7 linked regions of the Homo sapiens genome follow. The protein of the gene in region 1 interacts with the protein of each later gene in a pairwise test. Each region holds a gene or a part of one and is shown in the gene's direction. Other genes may lie near its edges.

What was found.
Region 2: the proteins of NEK7 (region 1) and C6orf58 interact in binary tests that used the Homo sapiens proteins (3 or more experiments, as listed by UniProt).
Region 3: the proteins of NEK7 (region 1) and RBM17 interact in binary tests that used the Homo sapiens proteins (3 or more experiments, as listed by UniProt).
Region 4: the proteins of NEK7 (region 1) and RASSF2 interact in binary tests that used the Homo sapiens proteins (3 or more experiments, as listed by UniProt).
Region 5: the proteins of NEK7 (region 1) and IDH1 interact in binary tests that used the Homo sapiens proteins (3 or more experiments, as listed by UniProt).
Region 6: the proteins of NEK7 (region 1) and ARHGEF28 interact in binary tests that used the Homo sapiens proteins (3 or more experiments, as listed by UniProt).
Region 7: the proteins of NEK7 (region 1) and RBM5 interact in binary tests that used the Homo sapiens proteins (3 or more experiments, as listed by UniProt).

The regions. Positions count from the first base shown.
Region 1 is NC_000001.11:198,313,998-198,317,497, forward strand, and holds part of NEK7 (serine/threonine-protein kinase Nek7), read left to right. Parts: intron 1-3,500. UniProt on the Homo sapiens protein: Protein kinase which plays an important role in mitotic cell cycle progression. Required for microtubule nucleation activity of the centrosome, robust mitotic spindle formation and cytokinesis.
Region 2 is NC_000006.12:127,580,174-127,583,673, forward strand, and holds part of C6orf58 (protein LEG1 homolog precursor), read left to right. Parts: intron 1-91; coding exon 92-276; intron 277-1,008; coding exon 1,009-1,109; intron 1,110-3,500. UniProt on the Homo sapiens protein: May be involved in early liver development.
Region 3 is NC_000010.11:6,099,034-6,102,533, forward strand, and holds part of RBM17 (splicing factor 45), read left to right. Parts: intron 1-2,237; coding exon 2,238-2,354; intron 2,355-3,500. UniProt on the Homo sapiens protein: Splice factor that binds to the single-stranded 3'AG at the exon/intron border and promotes its utilization in the second catalytic step. Involved in the regulation of alternative splicing and the utilization of cryptic splice sites.
Region 4 is NC_000020.11:4,785,609-4,789,108, reverse strand, and holds part of RASSF2 (ras association domain-containing protein 2), read left to right. Parts: intron 1-840; coding exon 841-892; intron 893-1,354; coding exon 1,355-1,476; intron 1,477-2,780; coding exon 2,781-2,878; intron 2,879-3,500. UniProt on the Homo sapiens protein: Potential tumor suppressor. Acts as a KRAS-specific effector protein. May promote apoptosis and cell cycle arrest. Stabilizes STK3/MST2 by protecting it from proteasomal degradation.
Region 5 is NC_000002.12:208,238,072-208,241,571, reverse strand, and holds part of IDH1 (isocitrate dehydrogenase [NADP] cytoplasmic), read left to right. Parts: intron 1-1,568; coding exon 1,569-1,709; intron 1,710-2,338; coding exon 2,339-2,501; intron 2,502-3,500. UniProt on the Homo sapiens protein: Catalyzes the NADP(+)-dependent oxidative decarboxylation of isocitrate (D-threo-isocitrate) to 2-ketoglutarate (2-oxoglutarate), which is required by other enzymes such as the phytanoyl-CoA dioxygenase.
Region 6 is NC_000005.10:73,939,843-73,942,490, forward strand, and holds the end of ARHGEF28 (rho guanine nucleotide exchange factor 28), read left to right. Parts: intron 1-1,001; coding exon 1,002-1,171; 3' UTR 1,172-2,148; downstream 2,149-2,648. UniProt on the Homo sapiens protein: Functions as a RHOA-specific guanine nucleotide exchange factor regulating signaling pathways downstream of integrins and growth factor receptors. Functions in axonal branching, synapse formation and dendritic morphogenesis.
Region 7 is NC_000003.12:50,095,419-50,098,918, forward strand, and holds part of RBM5 (RNA-binding protein 5), read left to right. Parts: intron 1-3,500. UniProt on the Homo sapiens protein: Component of the spliceosome A complex. Binds to ssRNA containing the consensus sequence 5'-AGGUAA-3'. Regulates alternative splicing of a number of mRNAs.

The DNA.
Region 1 (3,500 bases):
AGTTCTCCCGGATAATATCCTGCAGAGTGTTTTCCAACTTGGTTCCATTCTCCCCGTCACTTTCAGGTACACCAATCAGACGTAGATTTGGTCCTTTCACATAGTCCCATATTTCTTGGAGGCTTTGCTCGTTTCTTTTTATTCTTTTTTCTCTAAACTTCCCTTCTCGCTTCATTTCATTCATTTCATCTTCCATCGCTGATACCCTTTCTTCCAGTTGATTGCATTGGCTCCTGAGGCTTCTGCATTCTTCACGTAGTTCTCGAGCCTTGGTTTTCAGCTCCATCAGCTCCTTTAAGCACTTCTCTGTAATGGTTATTCTAGTTATACATTCTTCTAAATTTTTTTCAAAGTTTTCAACTTCTTTGCCTTTGGTTTGAATGTCCTCCCGTAGCTCGGAGTAATTTGATCGTCTGAAGTCTTCTTCTCTCAGCTTGTCAAAGTCATTGTCAGTCCAGCTTTGTTCCGTTGCTGGTGAGGAACTGCATTCCTTTGGAGGAGGAGAGGCGCTCTGCTTTTTAGAGTTTCCAGTTTTTCTGCTCTGTTTTTTCCCCATCTTTGTGGTTTTATCTACTTTTGGTCTTTGATGATGGTGATGTACAGGTGGGTTTTTGGTGTGGATGTCGTTTCTGTTTGTTAGTTTTCCTTCTAACAGACAGGACCCTCAGCTGCAAGTCTGTTTGAGTACCCGGCCGTGTGAGGTGTCAGTATGCCCCTGCAGGGGGGTGCCTCCCAGTTAGGCTGCTCAGGGGTCAGGGGTCAGAGACCCACTTGAGGAGGCAGTCTGCCCGTTCTCAGATCTCCAGCTGCCTGCTGGGAGAACCACTGCTCTCTTCAAAGCTGTCAGACAGGGACATTTAAGTCTTCAGAGGTTACTGCTGTCCTTTTGTTTGTCTGTGCCCTGCCCCCAGAGGTGGAGCCTACAGAGGCAGGCAGGTCTCCTTGAGCTGTGGTGAGCTCCACCCAGTTGGTGCTTCCCGGCTGCTTTGTTTACCTAAGCACGCCTGGGCAATGGCGGGCGCCCCTCCCCCAGCCTCGCCGCCACCTTGCAGTTTGATCTCAAGACTGCTGTGCTAGCAATCAGGGAGACTCCATGGGCGTAGGACCCTCCGAGCCAGATGCGGGATATAGTCTCCTGGTGCGCCGTTTTTTTAAGCCCGTCGGAAAAGCGCAGTATTCAGGTGGGAGTGACCTGATTTTCCAGGTGCCGTCTGTCACCCCTTTCTTTGACTAGGTAAGGGAACTCTCTGACCCCTTGCGCTTCCCGAGTGAGGCAATGCCTCGCCCTGCTTCGGCTCGCGCATGGTGCGCGCACCCACTGACCTGCGCCCACTGTCTGGCACTCCCTAGTGAGATGAACCCGGTACCTCAGATGGAAATGCAGAAATCACCCGTCTTCTGCGTCGCTTACGCTGGGAGCTGTAGACTGGAGCTGTTCCTATTCGGCCATCTTGGCTCCTCCTCCCCATCTATGGTGGGCCTTAGCTTTTCTAAGAGGTATGAGGAGCCATTGAAATGCTTAAAGTTGAAGCATCACCTGGCTAGTTAGGCAGTGCTAGAGAAATAGGAAGACAACTGAAAGCAAAGCCGTCAGCTGGAAGACTATCCAAGAGTGTGGCAGTGGAGATGGTGTGGCAGGAGCAAACAAAAGGTTTAAGGAGCCTGAGACCAATAGGACTGGTTGCTGACGGTTAGGCAGGTGGGAAGGAAGTATGATGAGATGTTTGATATGAATTTCAAATTTTTGACTTAAGAAGTTGGAGGTGCTGTTAGGAAGAGCTGGTTGGGGAGAAAAAAATACTAATATTTCAGTTTTAAACATGTTTAATGTGAATATTTACGTGCAGCTCTACTCAGAAGGCAGTTGGAAGTATGGGAACAGAGCCTGCAAAGAGGTCTAGGCTGGAGACAGATAACCTGTGTTCCTCAGCATGTTGGTGGTTATTGAAGGCATGGGAGTAAGTGCAGTTGTTGAAGATAAGAAGGAAGAGTGAAACAGGAAAAGAGTTAAGGAAAGGAAAATATTTAGGGCATACCAACATTTGGTAGATTTTTCAAAGGAAGATAAACCTCCAAAAGAAACTAGGAAGAAAACGTCAGGGAAGAGAAGGTCTAGGCCGGAATTGAATGATGTAAATCCAAAAGGATAGAGCTGACCAGGATGAAAGGGATTGGAAATGGTCTCAGTCAAATCAAACACAACCATACTGGAGGAAGGGAGGGAGAGACACAGAAGGACAGTTGTGTGTGCTTACATTTCTGATGTGACACAGCATTTTAAGAAACAGGCTGTGTCCTTGGAAGACAGAGACTAAATTGGTATGAAGGTGAAGATTACAGTCAGGTAATCAAAGAGATTTATATTGATTCACATCAAATAAATGTGAAAGTGACCCAAGATGAGGGTTGCAGTACTTGGAATGGAGAAGGATACTGTCAGCTGTGTGGGTATCGATACCTCCGTGTACGAGGTGCAACAACTCATAGTTAAACAGATTTTAGAAAAAGAGGAAAGTAATTATTTCCTCCTCTGGGCAGCCACACTTAATCTTTTACCTTTATCTCACAGATATCTCTTGAGATACCTATCACTTTGTAGTTTATAATAGAATTATTTCTGTGATTTCCTCACTTTCACATTTGTTTCTTTGTTCTGTCTATCTTCCGCTAGATTGTAGGCTGTTTAAGGGCCTGTGCTGTGTATTTTTCATTATTGCTTTATCCTTACTACCTAACAAAGTGTCTGGTACATAATAAATACTCCATTGGAAACTATTGAATGAACAATTGAATGAACGGATGAAAATGGAAGAGGGGGCAAAAAGAAAGAACAAAAGAGTCAGATGGTTAGAAAGGAAAATGAGTCATTCTCTCACTTCTCATGCTGGACAACAAGCCTTCCCTTGTGGACAGGTCCTTTGTCTTATCCGGTGCCATCAAGTATCACCAGCATAGTGTCTCTTGCAGAGTAGATCATCTAGAAATGTTGCTGGAGTGGATAAGTGGGAGCATTCCCAAAGCATATTTTAATTTCGTAGGTTTTCTTTCTTTTTATACTTTATTAATTTTTTAATGTAACAAATAATTGAGGAAAAGTTATCAACAGATTGATTCATAAATATAGTAAAGTATGCATATTCTGTATTTCACATATCTGATTTTATATGGTGATAGCCCTTTTGATTCTTCTGGAAAAGGAAACTCTTTATGACAAGATACACTTCGTATTTGGTGGAGATTGAATCAATAAGTGGGGAAGGAAAAGCAAACTCCAAGGTGCTGTGGCTCTGCCTGTCGCAAGGTCACCAATTGACCTGTCATCCCTTTGAAAGGCCATCCTTAAAGGAGCAGTTTAGAAGCATCTGCTCACTGGCACTCCCACTACCTATTTACCTTATTCAGTGTCTTTCTCCCTTTTTGTTATTCCCAATTCTTGTCTTTTTACTTTGGTGAACTAGAGAATCACTGTCTGCTTCAACTAAACGTGCATCATTATATCT
Region 2 (3,500 bases), on another chromosome or scaffold:
TGAATTTTTTTATGACTTATGCCTTCCTTAAAAATATCCTCTTTGAAATTTGTTAGTGCTTGTAGTAATAGTAAATCTTTTGTTCTTACAGATTTGAATTATTTTCTGTCTTCATTACCCTTTCTTGCTGCGGTTGATTCTGGTGTAATGGGGATATCATCAGACCAAGTCAGGCTTTTGCCCCCACCCAAGAATGAGAGGAAGTTTTGTTATGATGTTTCTAGCTGTCGTTCATCCTTCCCTGAGACAATGAACAAGTGGAACACCTTTTACCAGGTTCCTTCTTTATACTCTTACGAGATAGGAAGAGAGTTTATTTTGTCATATAATTTCGTCTAGGATTTTTTTGTGCATTACATAATATTTTCCTTAGTATGCAGATGTAAATTGCTATGCATGATATATTAATAGTATATTGTAGAGTGTTATGAGTCATTAACACCTACTGCCTCAATACAGCATTAACATAAATCTATCCATTCTTCTTGCCTCAAATACATTATACAAAAATGGTGAGCATACAGGATATTTTGCTGAATGATTAATAAGCTATTCTGATTAATTGAGTCTTCATGTCCACTAGGATATTGGAAGAAATTTGACTAAAATCAATGAAGAAAAGATATATTTACTAGTACTTTAGTAGATTATTGCATTAGTTTAGATCTAATGAAACATTTTAAGAAGATATTTTTGTTACTCACGATTTTATGGTAATTTTAACAGTGTTAACAGGAAAAAATAAAGGCCTGATCGGTATAAAATATAAACTCTGAAAATACTTGAAGTTCAATACTTATAGATGCATATGCTATTATTAAAACTAATGAATATTTTTGTGTTATTTAAAGAGTGTTAGGCATTAAGGCCATATACATACTTTTTCTTAGAAATAAAATTCTTCTTTTATGTACAATATTGCTAAAATATATCTGAACATGACTAAATTTCAGGGAGAAGGATTTTATAGTTGCTCAAATATTAATAAATTTGACCTCTTTACCTTAGTATTTGCAGTCACCTTTTAGTAAGTTTGATGATCTGTTGAAGTACTTATGGGCTGCACACACTTCAACCTTGGCAGATAATATCAAAAGTTTTGAAGACAGGTAAGAATGAATCTTTAAAGTATCTCTATTTAATATGATAAATAATTTTGGGCATTATTTATATATTTTTCTTCTTCTTCTAGAGTGTTTTTCAATCTTTATATTAAATAATAAGCCTAACCATTGGAGATTATAGTGAGGATGTGTAAATATTTTAACATGATCAGGCTTAAAAAAGTGTTTTATGAAGAAGGGGAAAATTTTGAGAAAAAAAAGCCTTGCATGAAAAAACAAAAAAAAAAGCAACAGACAATACATTTTCCTAAATGTAGAAAACAAAATATAATATAAATATGTAGATGACCTTTATTATTTAATCATAGACACTGTTACAAGAAAAACTATAGATAAGATAAATGTAGCAGAATTCACTTAAGCAATGAATGATTCATTAATCAGCATCATCCTGAACCAGTAGAGGTTCAGAGAGCTTCACCCAGTGATGTGGGCAGGCAGTATTTATAGACAGAAAAAGAAAGTGACATATGGAAACACCTTGATTGGTTACAGCTCAGATTTGCCTCATTTGGACATAGTGTGGTGAGAAATTTGCCTTGTATAGGCATGGTTTGATCAGTTGGCAGCCTGTGATTGGCTGAAGCTCAGCTGCCATGATTGGCTGAGACCCATATTTGTTACAAGAAAATACTCTTAAGTTTGGTTGCAGTTTGTTTACAAACTACATTAAGTTGCAGTTTGCTACATATCGTGGCAATTTTAGGCCAAACTTAATTTAACAATTCCCCACCTTTTGGTCTGCCTCTCAATTTTGAGAGGTTGACCAAAACCTTGGGCATTGACATCACTCTCTGTCACTTTCATCATTGACTTATTTGGTATCAGTATGGAATTCACAGTTCACAAATCAGGACAGTTGACTGATTATTTATGTTCTCTTTATGTTTTCATTATTCTAATTTTAATGAGACCATTTGACATAGAATGAATAGCTGCATAAGAGGATTTAAGACTCTGGGGAGGTTAAGGTGCACCAGGGAAACTATTATGATGGCTGTCAGGAGGCTGATACTAAGAGACAGAAGGAACCTCAATGAATTGAACCAACATAAATCAAATATATAAATAATAAGCCAGAAGAAAAATCTACTTGTTTTAACCAATTGGCTTGTTTGTTGATTTCTTACAACTGAGCTTCTACCCTACCTGATGAATTTACTTAAGTACAGGAGGGAGTGTTAGCTAGCGCACATATTCCTCCCTAAAGGTAGTCCAAAGCAATCCGGTTACCTAATATGCCTTTAGCAAGAAAATCTAAAGAAGTTTGCTGGCCAATTGTAGCCTTTGCAGTAGAGTCAGCTGTAGTAACTAATGTATGAGACGTATTTCTAAGCATAACCTCCTTTACATTTATACAAAGCCAGGGAAGGAATTTTTTACCCAACAATACCCATTAAGAAGAATTCATACCTGCTGGTAAATTCCTCTTTATTCCATAGTTCAAATTAAGAGTTGCAGACCAATATCCAGTTTCCAATTAGTTATGGAGTGACAGGAGTACTCTTGGAATCCCTTAATTGTCGGTGGCTCCTTATTTTGTAATTATTGAGACATGGATTTGCCCACATATATGGTTGGTTGTTAAATCCTCCACAAATAAAAATATATTCTGGAAGAACCCTACAGATAGTCTCCTGTGTGAGATGCCTTGTGCGTTATGAGTCAGCATTATGAGTCAGCATTAGTAATATTTGTCTAAGGCCTCATTTTTTAATCATTGTATGGTTAGAAGATACTAGCAACTAAAGGATTAGGGTTATAAATTTGCCTACAAACGTCGAATTATCTTCCTTTTGTTTTTCAAATTCAATTCTGGCTTAATTTAATTACCATACTCTCATTATAGGTTTTGCCTACTGTTAGATTTAAACAGGCAATCTGAATATTTGAATCTAAAAGTCTAGCTGTTTAGAAAGAACTAGATATTGCACATGGAATATCAGTGAAATTTCTTACAGGGTGAACCAGAGTATCTCTAAGATCATGTGAGGATTTAGGTTTAACATGACATATGCAATACTCAGTTAAGTTCCATGCAGAAGTAATTGAGTATGAAATCTTCATTATCACATTATATTGCCATGTGTAGACAGAAAAGAAACATGGGCCAAAAAGGAAAAGGAGAAAAGACTTCATGTTGACAGAGGAGAAAAGACTTTATTCATGATCTTGGGAAAGCTGTCTACATCAAGGATGCCATCTTCTTCTGGGGAAAAAAAACGTTCCTAGTAAGCTTTACCTGGAGATCTCCGATGGGTGTACAGTCCCAGGGGTCTGGAGGGGCTCTCTTGAGTTGAGAAATGTGGATCCAAGACTCAAATCCCTGAAGTTGTGCTGCAAAAAAGAGCTTGGTGTGGTACCTTCTGATGGAGT
Region 3 (3,500 bases), on another chromosome or scaffold:
AAACAAGGTTTCATTCCAAATGTAAGGAGGGTTAGCAAAACCTCGTTTTTCTCTTTAATTTTTTTTAAAAGTACATTTATAAAATCTTTGTAGATTTCATGTAACTTTTGCTTTGCAGGGAAGATGCAGGTGTGAGCCACCGTGCCCGGCCTCATATAGATTTTTAAAACTTGAGGTAGCTTGTGAAGTTATTTCTACTAACTTTATAAAACTTTTGAGATTGCTATGTACAGTTAGTTTTGTGGGTTTTTTTTTTTAAGGGAAGTGAAGATTGCATTCTCTTAGGCTGTTTAGTTACTCAGAATACTAGATTGGCCTAGCCAAACCTGTAAAGGTATTTATTTGGTAGAGAAAATTTGAAGCTGTGGTTTCATTTGTATCTCCATTTGAAAAAATACAGTTGTTTCTTGGTGTCCACAGGGGATTGGTTCCAGGACCCCCCTGCCCATACCAAAATCCAAGCGTGCCCAAGTCCCTTATATAAAATGGTGTGGTATTTGCACGTAACTAACACACATCCTCCCATATTTTAAATCATCTGTGGATTGCTTGCAATACCTAACACAATGTAAATGCTGTGTAAAAAGTTGTTATACCGTATTGGTTTTTTTATTTGTATTTTTTGTTGTATTGTTTTATTTTCTTAATATTTTCAGCCTGGGGTTAGATGTGGAACCTGTAGATACAGAGGGCCAACTCTATATTGAATAGAAAATAATAATAATAGAAAATATGTGATTCTGGCTGGGCGTGGTGGCTCACACCTGTAATCCCAGCACTTTGGGAGGCCAAGGCGGGTGGATCACCTGAGGTCAGGAGTTTGAGACCAGCCTGACCAACATGGTGAAACCTTATCTCTAATAAAAATACAAATATTAGCCCGGTGTGGTGGCGTGCATCTGTAATCCCAGCTACTCTGGAGGCTGAGACAGGAGAGTTGCTTCAACCTGGGAGGCGGAGGTTGCAGTGAGCCGAGATCGAACTCCAGCCTGGTGACAGAGCAAGACTCCATCTCAAAAAAAAAGAAAGAAAGAAAATATGTGATTCTAATAAATCCCCCTTCCGTTCTGTAAACTTTCGTATTTACTTTGTGAGTTGTTAATTGGATTAAATTTTGTTTGCTTAAATTTATAAGTATTGTTATATTCAAGAGAGATGAAGGCTTATTTTGTGCCTTTTATAGTGGTAATGAAAATTTGTAACACTTTAAATTGCAAAAGAGAAAAATTAAACCTTTCTAATCAAAAGATCTAATGGTTACCACCATACCCATATGATCAACCTTAGCATTGCTGTTAGACGGCCTGACGCAGTGTGCCTGCTGTGTGTTGCAGGAAGGGGCACACTGCCTCACCTGGGAAGTGTTCCTGCCTAAAAGCTTTACCCTGAATTCGATCAGGCCTTTAACCTCCAGGTTTCAGGAATTACAAGGCATAGAGGAACAAGCTCAACTAAATAACCAGGTAGTTATTAGACAGATCTAGAACAAACAGCATTTTACAAGATAGTGTCAGAGGAAAAAAAGGAAGAGGAGATGAAGATGATGGTGATGATGATGATGGGGAAGAGGGACTGTTCTTAATCAAGACACTTAAAAACCAAAAGCATTTCAGGAACTTTGGTAGGATCCTGGTTCAAAAAAAAAATCAGCTGTTTAAAGGACATTTTTGGGATATCTTGGAGAATCTGAATGTGAACTGGATGGGAAATGACATGGGAATTAGTGATTTTATTAGGGGTAGTAATCTGACAGGAGAATGTCCACGGTTTCAGGAGATTGGGGTGAAGTGTCATGATGTCTCCAACTTTCTTTCAAATGGTCTAGCAAAAAATACAGGTGTAAGGGCAAGAAGTATGGTAGAACATTAACAATAATTGAATGTATAGAAATGATTTTCTTTTAAAAACTTTTTTTTGTAGATTCATAATAAAGGAGATAGGAAGGATTCTATATCCTAGTAGGAGGGAACAAAACTCTTATCCCCAAGTATCTTTTGAAAGTGACTAAGTTTACTGTAAACCTTTCACAGAAATGGAGAAAATCTCATGTTTTTGAAAAAGCTGAAAGAAAATAATATATGATTATAGTAATAAATTAAAAGGCTGTTGTTTTGAGATTATGGTTTTCTCATATCTCAAAGGTTTGTTGCAGGGACCAGAAAGAAAATCTTTGTTGCAAACAGTGTGAATTTTAATTTGAAACTTCAGTATGTTTTCCTTGTTTTTGATGATTTTAGAGCCAAAGGACGAAACAAAGTACAGTCCTCGCCCCAGTCATTGACCTGAAGCGAGGTGGCTCCTCAGATGACCGGCAAATTGTGGACACTCCACCGCATGTAGCAGCTGGGCTGAAGGTAAGCCCGCGCCTGCCTGTGAGCTTGATACGTGTCTCTGTTCCCATGTGGCTTATTTTGCATATGAGTTACTCTTAACAGATGGCCTCCTTGGTGGGCCTTTGAAACCAAGTTAGTATCATTTTCCACCTAATTTTTACTTCTGTTTTGCCAATTTTAAAATGTATCTATTTGAAATTAAATAGTTTGTTGTAGAAAAATCAGAAACTAGAGATACGCAGAAAGAAAAACAAATTACCTTCAGTCATACAATCCGGAAGTGAAAAACGTAATATTTTTCCATCCTGTGCCTACTCCACCTTCTGCTAACTTGCTTTTCTTACTTAATACGTTGTGACTCTGTCAAAAAATACAGGACTGTATGATCACGTTTATGGCTTCACTATATTCCCTTGTATATAGATGGACTATAATTTAATTCCTTTAATGCTGGATATATGGGTTGTTTCTATTTTTTGCTATCATAAACAGTGTTAGTACTTACTGATTTATTGTGGATTAAAACAGAGAAAGGGGTTTTAAAACCCACTTCTACCACCCTAACCTGTATGATTCCAGTGATTTTACATATGCTTAAAAACAAACATGTGGTCAACTCTATAAATTGGGTTATTGAGGATGAAGAAGATCTGGAAAAGGATAACTCAAAATCATAGTTAAAACTAGACAAAATGAGGTAAAATGAGTGAATAAACTAGTTAAAATTATACCCACAATTTAAGTATACATTTATCTTTCCACAGATGGCGTTCAAATAATGACTGTGGTCATTTAAACAGCATCATGAATTGCACAAAACCGCTTGATGAAAAATGACCAAAAGATTAATAATAGTGCTATCGAGACAGTTTCTTAGCAAGGCGCGCCTGTCCTCCCCACCACCTGTGGGAAGGGCTGCATCAGGCTGGGGCAAAGGGCACACTCCTGCCCATCTGTTTCACGTCACTGTTCTGGGTTGGGCTCCGTCTCCTGCCTGTCCTGCTTATGTTCTGGGCCAGTCTGTGGCTGCAGCTTACCCTTGAGTTGTCCTTTTCTGAGGGGAGCGGGTGCTGTTCCTGAGGGCTGGTAGTTCTTCTGGAGGGGAAGCACCACATGGTGGAGGTGTTTTTTTGCTGATTCCTAGTCATTGAGCATTTTCCCCCATAA
Region 4 (3,500 bases), on another chromosome or scaffold:
TCTGTGTTTTCCACAATCTCTTGGAGACCAGAGATCTTTTGGAGACCAGGTGTTCTTATTTTTAATGGAAGCCAGTGTAGCCTAACAACCTAAGAACACAGGCTCTGGGTTCAAATCTCCACTGAGCACCTGCTAGTTGGATGAATTGGGCAGGTTACTTAACCTGCCCCTGCCTCTGCTTCGTCATCATAAAATGAGGATAATGGGACTTCACTATGGTATCGTCGTGAGCATTAGATGGGTTGAAGCCTTTAACATTTGTAGAACTATGCCTGGCACATTGCAATAGACGATAGCTGTTATCTATCCTAGTCGTGTGCTACAGAATGACCAATTTGGTCAATGATGCACCACATATACGACAGTGGTCCCGTAAGATTATAATCCATTTTTTATGGTACCTTTTCTGTGTTTAGATATGTTTAGATACACAAATGCTTACCATTGTGTTACAAGTGCTTACGGCATTGAGTACAGTAACATGCTGTATAGGTTTGTACACTAGGAGCAATAGGCTATATACCATATGGCCTAGGTGTGAAGTAGGCTATGCCATCCAGGTTTCTGTAAGCACACTCTATGATGTTTGCACAACAATGAAATTGCCTAGTGACACATTTCTCAGAATGCATCCTCGTGGTTAAGTGCATGACTGTATTATTGATAAAGTCATCTGCCTTCTCGATCTTCTCATCACTTCTGAGAGTTGTAGATAAATAGCTCTCCCCTCAAAACAGCCTAAAATTGACTTAGCTTTGCATTGCTAAAGAAGAGGAAAAGCCTCGAAGTTGGGATGTTTAAATAGAAACTTTCAACAAGAATCTTTTGCTCCTGCTTCAGATTGAGAATTCAGCAGAGGAGTTTGCCTTGTACGTGGTCCATACGAGTGGTGGTAAGTCTGAAGACCACAGTGTACTTTAAAACTTCTAATTAACTCAAAATAGCAAGTTAAAAAAATACCTCTGCCTCCTTTGCTTGTTGTTTGAGTTTTGGAAACTTCCAAATGTTGTTTGCCTTCAAGGCTGATGGGCTTGCTGTATGAGTCTACTAGGGATTGCCTTATATGGCCAGTAAACAAATTCTAAACCTAACTGCCTATTAAAAGAGGAACTAGATTTTCTTAAGAGACAGATAAACCCAATTCCTCCAAGGAGTTTGAGGCATGGTGGTATTGTTGAGGGGTGAGGAGTGGGAGGAAGTTGCTTTTCACAACACCTATGGAATAGTTCACTTATAAATCAGTCTCCTGACGTATATGGCGGCATCTCCTAAGGTGCCTTTGGACCCCTGCATTAACCACTACTTAATGTGAGAAAGGCCTCTCAGGGCTGCTCCTGGGTGTGTGTGGTTGCAGAGAAACAGAAGCTGAAGGCCACCGATTACCCGCTGATTGCCCGAATCCTCCAGGGCCCATGTGAGCAGATCTCCAAAGTGTTCCTAATGGAGAAGGACCAGGTGGAGGAAGTCACCTACGACGTGAGTTCCCTTTGGGTCAGGCGATCTGTCCTCAGGAGGGTGGGGATTTGGTTGGACCACCTGTAACTGGGGTATAGAATGACTTTTTTGACCAACGACCATGCCCCCTTTTACTTCTTCAGCACCAGGTTCTCTCGAAGCCAGCTTTTGCAGAGTAACAAACATCTCCAAATCATAGTAGCTGACAACAGCAAACATTTGCTTTTTTGCCCATGATTCTGTGGTCTAGTAGCAATGGCTCTACTCTAAGTATGGGTTGAGTTCAAGTCTGCACTGTGTGACTCACCCAGAGGCCCAGGCTTTTGGGGCAGTAGTTACTGCACATGGGTGTGGTCCTCATGGCAGATGGCGGAGCATGAGAAACCAGGCCAAATCATGTAAGCATATTTGAAGCCTCCACTCAGATTTGGTGTGTCATGTCCACACACATTCCACTGGCCAAAGCCAGTCACATGGACAAGCTCAGCATTAATAGGGTAGAGAAATGTACTTATCCCAGGGAGAAGAGTTGATAGAGCAGGGTGGGGATTCTTGTGGGGAAAGGGAAGCCATTTTTTAACTTTTTTTTTTTTTTTGGGATGGAGTCTCGCTCTGTTGCCCAGGCTGGAGTGCAGTGGCACCTCCCTGGTTCAAGCTATTTTCCTGCCTCAGACCCCTGCGTAGCTGGGACCACAGGTGTGCACCACCATGCCTGGCTAATTTTTGTATTTTTAGTAGAGACGGGGTTTCACCATGTTGGCCAGCTGGTCTTGAACTCTTGACCTCAAGTGATCCGCCCGCCTCAGCCTCCCAAAGTGCCGGGATTACAGGCATGAACCACGATGCCTGGCACCGTTTTTAAACTTTAACTCACCCCATAGCCACCCACAGCCTCTCCAAAGCGAGTTCATATTTGGATGCTTGTTTGAGCCTTGAGACCCAAATCGTCATCTGGAACCCTGATTCCTTCCATTCTCTTAGGGGAGAACAAAGGGGTTTATTAAACATAATGGGTTCAGTTCTTTCTCTGCATCACTGTGTCAAAAGAAAGTACTTTTCTGTGTTTGGCTTCACCTCATCATGAATTGAATGCATGACATGAAAAATGAGAAGTTATGAGATGGTGTCACGTAAGCGAAGCGATCATCGCAGACTCCTTCCCACCCTGGTGAGGAATGAGGCTTGGCTGCTGCCTTTAAGGAAATCCTGGGTTTCTGAAAAAAATAGACTTCCCAAGGCTTTGTGCCTTGTATAAGGACAACCCTGAAAGGAATTGGAATAATGCTGGGAAGGGCATTCACCCAGACTTGCTTCTTTCTCTCTAGGTGGCCCAGTATATAAAGTTCGAGATGCCGGTACTTAAAAGCTTCATTCAGAAGCTCCAGGAGGAAGAAGATCGGGAAGTAAAGAAGCTGATGCGCAAGTAAGTGTGGCTTCTGGGGCACTGGGTGCACTTCTCCTGGGGCCTCAACAGAGGGGCCTCTGCTGGGTCCTCGCAGGGACTGTGCTGAGCTGCTGCATGGGCCTGAGTCTCGGCTTTCTTTGGAGGGCTGCCCATTGACAAACCTGGATTTCAAGTGAGGACGTGACAGTTAAGTGTGTTCATCTACTTCTTGTGTCAGCTTCTCGTTTTGATGTGGGACATCAAAGTGTCTCTTGTCCTCCCTCTTATGGAAAGACTCTGAAAAGAAGGTGTTGGTTTAAAATTTCTTTGGGGTCTAGATGCAGAAATAGGGAAGGTGACTGTACGCTGGTTTCTTAAGTATACGATCAGGCTCCCAGCAGGAGACAGATGCTCACTCCGATGAGGGTCTTTGACGGGTGTTTGAAGAAGGGACTATTTGCGAAGACTTGGGCAGAGTCTGGGGTAACCTCAAGGGATAGTGCAGTCCCTGGGGCTAGTGTTACCACCCCTTGCCTGAAGGGGTGAAGGCAAGGAGTGCTAACCAAGACCCGGAGGTTCCAGGGATTTCAGGAAGGCTGTCTTAGCCGTGGATGTAGCCTGAGCTACTGGCCTCCAAAATCCTCTCCTCTCCCCCTTCCTC
Region 5 (3,500 bases), on another chromosome or scaffold:
GCCAGCTGCTGTTCTGGTAGAATATAAAACAAATGTGTTTGGCTGGGCACAGTGGCTCACGCCTGTAATCCTAGCACTTTGAGAGGCCAAGGCAGTGGATCACTTGAGGCCAGGAGTTCAAGACCAGCCTGGCCAACATAGCAAAACCCCATCTCTACTTCAAAAAAAAAAAAAAAAAAAAATTAGCCAGGTGTGGTCGCATGCCTATAGTCCCTGGCACTCAGGAGGCTAAAGCATGAGAATTTCTTGAGCCTGGGAAGCGGAGGTTGCAGTGAGCTGAGATCACGCCACTATACTCCAGCCTGGGCAACAGAGCAAGACTCTTGTCTCAACAACAACAAAGAAAAAGTGTTTTTGTTTACTGCTTAGCTTACACACAAATCAATTGAGCAAAGAACCCTAGGGGCTGTTTACAGAAATTCCAGGAGAAGTTTCATGCATGGGGTAAGGGCCAAATCAACAGAAACACAGCGCCTGGTTTCCTCAGCACCAAGTTGCCCTTCAGTTTCAGTTGCCCTTGGTAGCTGTATGAACTTGAATCTCCCCAGATGAATGTTTGTTAACTTTAATTATGTTTGTTTTTCCCAAGAAGTACTACTTTTTCTGTCTCTTATCAGTGTTAAACATCTCCTCTCAGTTTGAAAATCAGTAGATCAACCTGGTTAAAGATAACTTTTTGCCAGATAAATGAGTTACACAACTCTCCTTACCATCCTTCTGTTTCTCTACATCCTCACAATCATTTGTACTGAATGCAACAGAGGAAGGAGTGTTATTGCTTTGTGATGACTCCGTGGTTGATTATTAACTTCACAGGTGATGTTGGGAGGTAGCAAAAATGGAGAAAAGAAGAAAATCAATTATATAGATATAAGAGTTGTAATGTGGTTCTTTCAATAAGAAACCACAGAAGAGAACTGTTGTACTGAGGGTATGAAAGAGAGCGAGGAAGGGCAACTGGGATGTTCTTAGATCCAACCGATCCTGTGTTTACCTGCCTTCTCTTCCCAGTCCCAGCAAGTGTATGAGCAGCTTGAGGGTTCTTAAGAGACAGCTCTCGTCCATCTTTATTTCCCCAGAACAGCAGAGCATTGCACATAAGAATAACAATAATAGATTGAGCTCTGTGTCCAGTACTATTCTAAGGAATATAAATATATATTCATATATATTTATGAATATATGTATATTTATCTAATCCCACAGCAACCTAGTGAAGTAGGTGCTGTTATTACTCCCATTTTACAGATAAGAAAACTGAGCCGCAGTAGCTATGAAGTCATAGAACTAGAGTGGAATGTAGGCAGTTGGACCCTGAACCCTCCATCAAGGAGTAGGTATCCCTGAAATAAGTGAGGGGAAAATGCAGCCTTTCCAGACCCATTGGCTCTGATATCTGGAGCGGGGATCCTGCCTTCTGAAAGGCAGAATTATTGGTGATTCCATGTGCTCTTGTTTACTTTGCTTACCAAGACCTATCAAGATTGAGTCATTTATGCTCTCATCTCTGAGAGACTCAGTGCTCTTCATGCAGTTGGACCCAACGCTTCATGCTCCACTACTTACAGGGTATGGCTCTCTCGGCATGATGACCAGCGTGCTGGTTTGTCCAGATGGCAAGACAGTAGAAGCAGAGGCTGCCCACGGGACTGTAACCCGTCACTACCGCATGTACCAGAAAGGACAGGAGACGTCCACCAATCCCATTGGTAAGATGGTGTTTACATTGATTTCTCACCAGAGAGTGCTCTCCAAAGCAGCCCAGATGTGTTCCCTTGGCTGCTCAGTGTTTTGTGTGCAAAGTCATCACCAAGTAGCTGATTTGTTCTACTAGTAAGATCTATTTGAATATGCTTCTTAAAATATACAATATTTGCTTTTCTGTTTTGTGGGAGAACATAGGTTACAGAGAGGAATGTTATCAACAAGCATTTTCCTTTACCTCTGGTGCAGTGAAATGTCACATAAGGCTACAAATCTAAAAGTCACATGGATAGATCCTTTTAACAAGTTTCAAAGATAGCACTTCAAAAAGAGATTACAGCCTGGAAAAAGGAGACCAATATAGACAAGAGATAGAAGAGATTGTGACCTTTTTCAAATTAGAAAATGCCTTAAGTTTCAAACACTAGTACCATGCCATGAAAATGTGTTTTTTTAAAGTTTCTGTTTGGTAAAATATTTCTAACTCTCCTAAAACTTCTAGCCCATGTGGTTAGTATCTAAAGAAGTCTGTCACCTAAACAAAAAACTATTCTGTTTTGGGGAACTATGAGACATTTGGAAACCTCTATAACTAGGATGATTGGAGTGTTGTGTTTTTTTTCCCCTCTTTTAGCTTCCATTTTTGCCTGGACCAGAGGGTTAGCCCACAGAGCAAAGCTTGATAACAATAAAGAGCTTGCCTTCTTTGCAAATGCTTTGGAAGAAGTCTCTATTGAGACAATTGAGGCTGGCTTCATGACCAAGGACTTGGCTGCTTGCATTAAAGGTTTACCCAAGTAAGTATAAGATGCCCTAGTTTCTATGGTCAAATTAACACTTATCCTCACTGGGCTCAGAGCATCGGTGCTTTCTGGAATTATATAAATTGTTATTCATCATCTAGTTCAGGAGTCAGCAGATATCTGTAAATTGTCAGATAGTGAACATTTTAGGCTTTGTGGAACATATAGTCTTTTTGCAACTACACAACTATTCAACTTTGCCTCTGCCATTGTAGCAGGAAAGCAGTCATAGACAATACAGAATCAAATGGTGTGGCTGGTACCAATCAAACTTTTATGTTCAAAACCAGCCTCGATTTGGTTCATGTGCTGGGCTGTAATTTGCTGACATCCCATCTAGTTGATAATCATTGAACGAAAAGGTTCTATTTAATTTTAAGAAGCAGATTATAGACAAATAGAAACAAAGATACTTCAGAGGCTATTTTATTCTACTCCTTTATTTTCTTTAACTTACTGATGAGAAAAGTGAGCAGCACAAGTTTAAGGTGTGCAATTGATTACAGTCCCTTAAGTATCTGTAACCAATATTTGGGCAAATATTTGACAGCCCATATGTTTACTGAGAATTTTTCTGAGAACATAGTAGCCAGTATCCTGGGGGGATTGTCTCCATATCTCAACCAGTGCATCTGCAGAGGTCCCAGGTAGGGTCAGTATACCCCATAATGGGGATATACTTGGTCACTGCATGTTTCTTAATTTAAATTTCCAACAAGATTGCAGTGTTCGCTGGGTGCTGTGGCTCATGCCTGTAATCCTAGCACTTTGGGAGGCCGAGGTGGGTGGATCACGAGGTCAGGAGATCAAGACCATCCTGGCTAACACAGTGAAACCCCATCTCCACTAAAAATACAAAAAATTAACCAGGCGTGGTGGCGGGCACCTGTAGTCCCAGCTACTCGGGAGGCTGAGGCAGGAGAATGGCGTGAACCTGGGAGGCGGAGCTTGCAGTGAGCCGAGATGGTGCCACTGCACTCCAGCCTGCGTGAC
Region 6 (2,648 bases), on another chromosome or scaffold:
TGTGGCGAGGGTTACAATGGCCTCTTTTTTTTCTTTATGTTCTTTAAATTTTTTTTTAATTTTAATTTTTATAAGTTTGTAGTAGGTGTATGTGGCCTCTTCTTAATGACTGAAAAATAAGCAGGTGGGCCTCAGAGCTATTTGCCCTCCTTTCCCACCTGGACTTCCATTCCTACTCAGGTTTTTGTTCTAACACAAGCTGGTTATTTGTAATTTTGCCATATGGCTGAGCCTGAGGGTGAGTGGTCAGTGGAACAAGTGCAGGGAAAATGGTTTGCAGCAAGTGTCTTTCTTCAAATCAAGCCTCCCTTTTGTCTCTCCTTGAAAATATAATATTAGAGGATTTTATCAGAAAAAGGGAGAATACACAGTGTCCTGCTGTTGCTAGGTAACCAGAAAACATCAAACCCAGTCAGAGCTGAAACTGGCTTGATTTTCCCTAGGAACCTGGCTGCTCTTGCTGAGTACTTTGTGTAGTATTAACAGATCTGTGATTAACAGCATAATGGTGAGGCTGGAGGGTCTCCTTCATTCTTTCACTTTTTACCCCCACCCCTTGACCACATCAGTAAAGTGCCAAATATGTTATTTGAGCCTTGAAGTCAATTCTTGACTGACAGATATTCTGAGGGAAGGTGCTCTGCAGATGCAAATATAGTTGATTTACACATAGCTGGAGTATATACTGTATTTCCATGACTTTCACCCATTTTAAAAAATAAATGGGCATCCCTTTTTCAGCAATAGCAGCGGTTTAAGATCCCATGAACAGTAACCCATATTTAGTCACAGGAGACATTTGTGCACACAATCGAACATATCTTAATGATATTGATGAATGATTTTGACACCTATTATGTTCCTTTCTCATTGGGCTTGGCCATTCTGTGGCTGACTATATGGGCACTGCATTTCCTAATCTTAGAGAGCTCTAACGCCAAGACATCTGCCTTGTACATCTCAGGTGGCCTCCTGTAACCTGTGCTGTCTGTTTCTTGCAGATTTGGACACCTCCCACACTGAGTCCCCAACCCCCCATGACTCAAATTCACACCGCCCTCAACTGCAGGCGTTTATAACAGAAGCAAAGCTAAATCTACCGACAAGGACAATGACCAGACAAGATGGGGAAACTGGAGATGGAGCCAAAGAAAATATTGTTTACCTCTAATTGTGTTGTCATTTTTCCAAACAAAACAAAACACTGGCACTTTTGGGAGAAACTTTTTGTCTCCATTCCTTATGTATGTGTGATTGTCTGTGTCCAAATTGCTTTAAGAATAATATTTAATATTTCCTGGAAGCTCATTTTTTTGGCATGAGTCTAATTAAATTATTGAAAGCCACCCTGTTTGTATAATCTTTAACTTATCAAATCTAATTTCAGATTTCTGGAGGAGAAACTAACTTGAATAAGCAGGACTATTTTAAAAGTTGTTTTGACGCTAGAGTAAAATTCCATGTCACATTTTCTACCCAATCATCTGGATTTCAAGATTCCTTTTAAGATCTCAATGAAGCAATTTGGATTTAAAGAGTGGTATTCACAAGGGGTGAACTTTCACAGTCAGGGCAGTTGCCTCAGTGCCCACATAGGCAGAGGAGGATGTGGGAAAGGGTTTTTCTCAGCTAGTTTTTGTGTGCTCATTTCTTCTGGGAGCATTAAAAGTGGTGATCTGTTACAGTCACTATTCAACTGGGCACGTGTTGTGATTGGTCAGTCACTGAGCCAGGGATACAGTCCGGACTTGCTTAGTACCTAAGCCTAATGCTGGTGGGGTTTCAAGACATGGTTCAGCATCATCTTTTAACAAGGCCCAGAGGCCCAGAGCCCCCATCAAGTCATTTTGATGTAAATAGTGAACTTTGTTAGAGCCCTCACTTCTATCAATCAGCTGTCCTGTCCCTGCCAGCACCTGGAGCACCAACTACCACTCCCTGGAAAGAACCCTTCCCTGCAGTTTTTTAAGGACAAAACTGCCCACTCCTCATTAAGTTTGCTGCCTGGATACACTTTTCCACAAAGGAAAACTGGCATATCCTGCCTTCCGAGTAGTATGGGTCTCTGTGTGAGAAACCAGGAGATATTTTCATCTTGTTCGGAAATACTTGTATGTATTTTGGTGTCAATAAATATCTTGTACCTCATTATTTTACTTTGTAATTTTAACATTATGTGTAGGACCATAGTAAAACATTCATTTCACACAGACATCTAATCTCACCTCGTGAAAAGTGAAAATAAAGGAAAACTATTAGATTCATCCAAAAATGCAACACCTACTGGGAGTGAGATGTGATAGGAACAGAAAAAAAAAAAAAAAAATCACCCGGATCTCAATAGTTTTTTCTCCCTACTTAAAGTTGTTAAGTTGGATATCTACATTGTGTTTTTACTTAGGCAAGTCCAATCCTAATTTTTTTAAAAGCCCCTTTTGGGGGCAGTCTTTTTCTGACTTTAGCTGGCTATTTTTGTAACAATTACATTAAAAATTCGGTGACTGATCTTTTCACAGAATGGATATAACTTATTAAACTTCTATTCAATCACTTCACCTCTAAGCTGAACTCTTCAATTACAACATGTATCTCCCATTCCTAAAGACATCTAGAAATATCTGTCTTTCCTCTTTCTTCAATAAAGTCTA
Region 7 (3,500 bases), on another chromosome or scaffold:
AACTACCCATTTGAAACCTCAGAAAAGCTTGTTAAAAAGGACGGCTCATTCAGACTGGCCAATTAGAGTCTTAGTGTACTTGGCACTGCCTGATTTCCAGCAGCATCTCTGGTCCTCACCCTTCCTTCCAGCCACACCCTACTTTCCACATCCTGGACTTTGGACATGTCCATTGCTCTACTGTTGTGCCTTTTTCTGCTTGGAGACGCCTGTATGTAAAGCCTGATCTATCGGGCAGAGCTTCTTCTTCGTTATTCTCTTCCTAAGGCACTGTATTCATGACTTTTGTGTAGCACCTTTACTGTAGCCATCAACACACATGTCTCATCTCTACCACAAGATCTCTGAAAATAGGCCTCTGTGTGAACTAGTCACCTCTGTGTCCCCAACCCTTGAACACAGTATGTTACTCAGCCAGTGCTCTTGGTAAAAATGAATGTGAGGTTTTAAAACAGCAGTGTGCCAGTATTTGTTTTCTTGGAGTAATCAAAGTAATATTCTGACTAATGTTTAGTTGAATTTTGGATAAAGCTCAAAATAAGCATTGGATTCCCGTAGCTTTGGGTTTCTAAACCCTGGAAGTAATGAATGTGACAAATGTGAGACAGGATATTAGAGTTAATAGTGGGTAATCATTCCATTATTTGTGATCCACTGCACATCTGCTACACTGTACATGTTAGATGCTACAGTGACACAGAGCTATGGATCTTGCCTCAAAAAAGCTTATGGATGAGTAGCTAAGGTCAGCAGATAATGGTGACAATGCAGAATAGAAAGGGGTCAGAGGCCGAGTATGGTAACTCATGCCTGTAATCCCAGCACTTCGGGAGGCCAAGGTGAAAAGAGTGCTTGAGCCCAGGAGTTCAAGTCCAACCTGGACAACATGGTAAGACGCATCTCTCCAAAAAAAAAAAAAAATAGCCAGTCTTAATGGCGCTTGTCTGTGGTCCCAGTTACTTGGGAGACTGAGGCAGGAAGATCACTTGAGCCTAGGAGGTCAAGGGTACAGTGAGTTGTGTTCACGCCACTGCACTCCAGCCTGAGCGACAGAGCAAGACCCTGTCTCAAAAAGAGGGTCATGTCGGAAAAGGTCCTATTGAAAGAGGTCTGCCTAAGAGCTCTTGAAGGTTATTTAAAGGAAATTGTTACTAGTGGAGGGTAAGGAATCTTCTATTTTTATTTTTGTGAGACAGGGCCTTACTCTGTCGCATAGGCTGGAGTGCAATCGCGTGATTGTGGCTCACAGCAGCCTCCAACTTTTGGGGCTCAGGCAATCCACCAGCCTCAGCCTCCCAAGTAGCTGGGATTACAGGCATGTGTCACCACTCCGAGCTAATTTTTTTTTTTATCGTTTGTTTTTTTTTTTGTAGAGACAAGGTCTCTCTTTATTGCCTAGACTGGTCTTGAACTCTTGTCTTCAATCAATCCTCCCGCCTGGGTCTCCCAAAGTGCTAGGATTATAGGCGTGGAAAACTAAGGGAATGGTGTGGTAGATGGGCCCTTCAGGCGGAGGGGTATCACATGAGCAGGGAATAGAAAGGTACTGAATCTAGATAAGGCCTAGCAATCGGCTTGATTTGGCTGGAGTCAGAGGCTTTTGGCAGGAGAGGGATGAGTGGCAAAGTGCTATTGTGGCTAGGGGCTAGAGTTCTCAAAAGTCTAGCTAAGCCTAAAAGAATATTACTGAGGGTTGGCCAGGTGCGGTGGCTCACGCCTGTAATCCCAGCACTTTAGGATTCTGAGGCAGGCGGATCACAAGGTCAGGAGATCGAGACCATCCTGGCTAGCACGGTGAAACCCTGTCTCTACTAAAACTACAAAAAAATTAGCCAGCCGTGGTGGCGGGCGCCTGTAGTCCCAGTTACTCAGGAGGCTGAGGCAGGAGAATGGCATGAATCTGAGAGGCGGAGCTTGCAGTGAGCCGAGATCGTGCCATTGCACTCCAGCCTGGGCGACAGAGCAAGACTGTCTCAAAAAAAAAAAAAAAGAAACTGCTACAAGTATTGATTTGAGTGTTAGAAATTTTAATGAGTGGTTGAATTCACAGGTGTGATACCTGAGGATAATGAGGATTGGCTGTGTGTAGTCTTGCAGCCGTTGCACCTAGTTATGGAAAGTAGAGGCCAGTGAGAATCTTGTTTCCACAAATTTCACCCTGTTTTTTTTTTCATGGTAGTATTCATGCCTGATATTATTGATGAAGAGACTAGTATATTTTTGTGGCCTTTTGGAAAAAGGAGTTGGTCTGACATTGGAACAAGCCTACCAGCCAGAATACTTTATTCTAGCCCCAATTAATGTTTGATTTATTAGGAGCCTAAGAATGTGATGAACTTTGAAAATTTTTACCAATAATTTAACTGTAAGAAAAGTATGATCCATTAAAAATGTTTACCTGGCCTGGTGCGGTGGCTCACGCCTGTAATCCCAGCACTTTGGGAGGCCAAGGTGGGTGGATTACCTGAGCCCAAGAGATGGAGACCAGCCTGGGCAACATGGTGAAACCCCTCTCTACTAAAATATAAAATATTAGCTGGGTGTGGCGACATGCGCCTGTAGTCCCAGCTACTCTTGAGGCTGAGGCAGAATTGCTTGAACCCAGGAGGCGGAGGTTGCAGTGAGCCGAGATCATGCCATTGCTCTCCAGCCTGGGCAACAGAGTGAGACTCCATCTCAAAAAAATTTAAAAAAAAGTTTATCATCAGGCTCTTCATTTTTTGGCTGTTGATTTTTTTCCTTATTTTGAGAGTAGGCCTCAAAGAGCAGGAAGGCTATTCTTGATTAGGCGTACTTCAGGGCACAGTGACGCATCCACTGCCTCTTTTAAATCTCATCTGAGTCCTTATTTTTATTTTTTTATTTTTTTAAAGATAGGGTTGCACTTTGTCACCCAGGCTGGAGTGCAGTGGTGCAATAGCCCATTGTAACCTCGAACTCCTGGGCTTAAACAGTCCTCCCACCTCAGCCTCCCAGGTAACTAGGACTACAGGTGTATACCATCATGCTTGGGTAATTTTTATTTTATTTTATTATTTTTTTTTGAGACGGAGTCTCACTCTTGCCCAGGCTGGAGTGCAGTGGCGCGATCTCGGCTCACTGCAACCTCCGCCTCCCGGGGTCAAGCGATTCTCTTGCCTCAGCCTCCCAAGTAGCTAGGACTACAGGCACGTGCCACCACGTCTGGCTGATTTTTTGTATTTTTAGTAGAGACGGGATTTCACTGTGTTAGCCAGGATGGTCTCCATCTCTTGACCTCGTGATCCACCTGCCTTGGCCCCCCAAAGTGCTGGAATTACAGGCGTGAGCCACTATGCGAGGCCTAATTTTTAAAATTTTTGTATACAGATGGGGTCTTACTGTGTTCCCCAGGCTGGTCTCACACTCCTGTGCTCAAGCGCTCATCTTGCCTCATCTTCCCAAAGCGCTAGGATTATAGGCTTGAGCCACTGTACTATCCTGCAGAACAAAGGACAGGGAGATTAGACTAAAGGATGGAG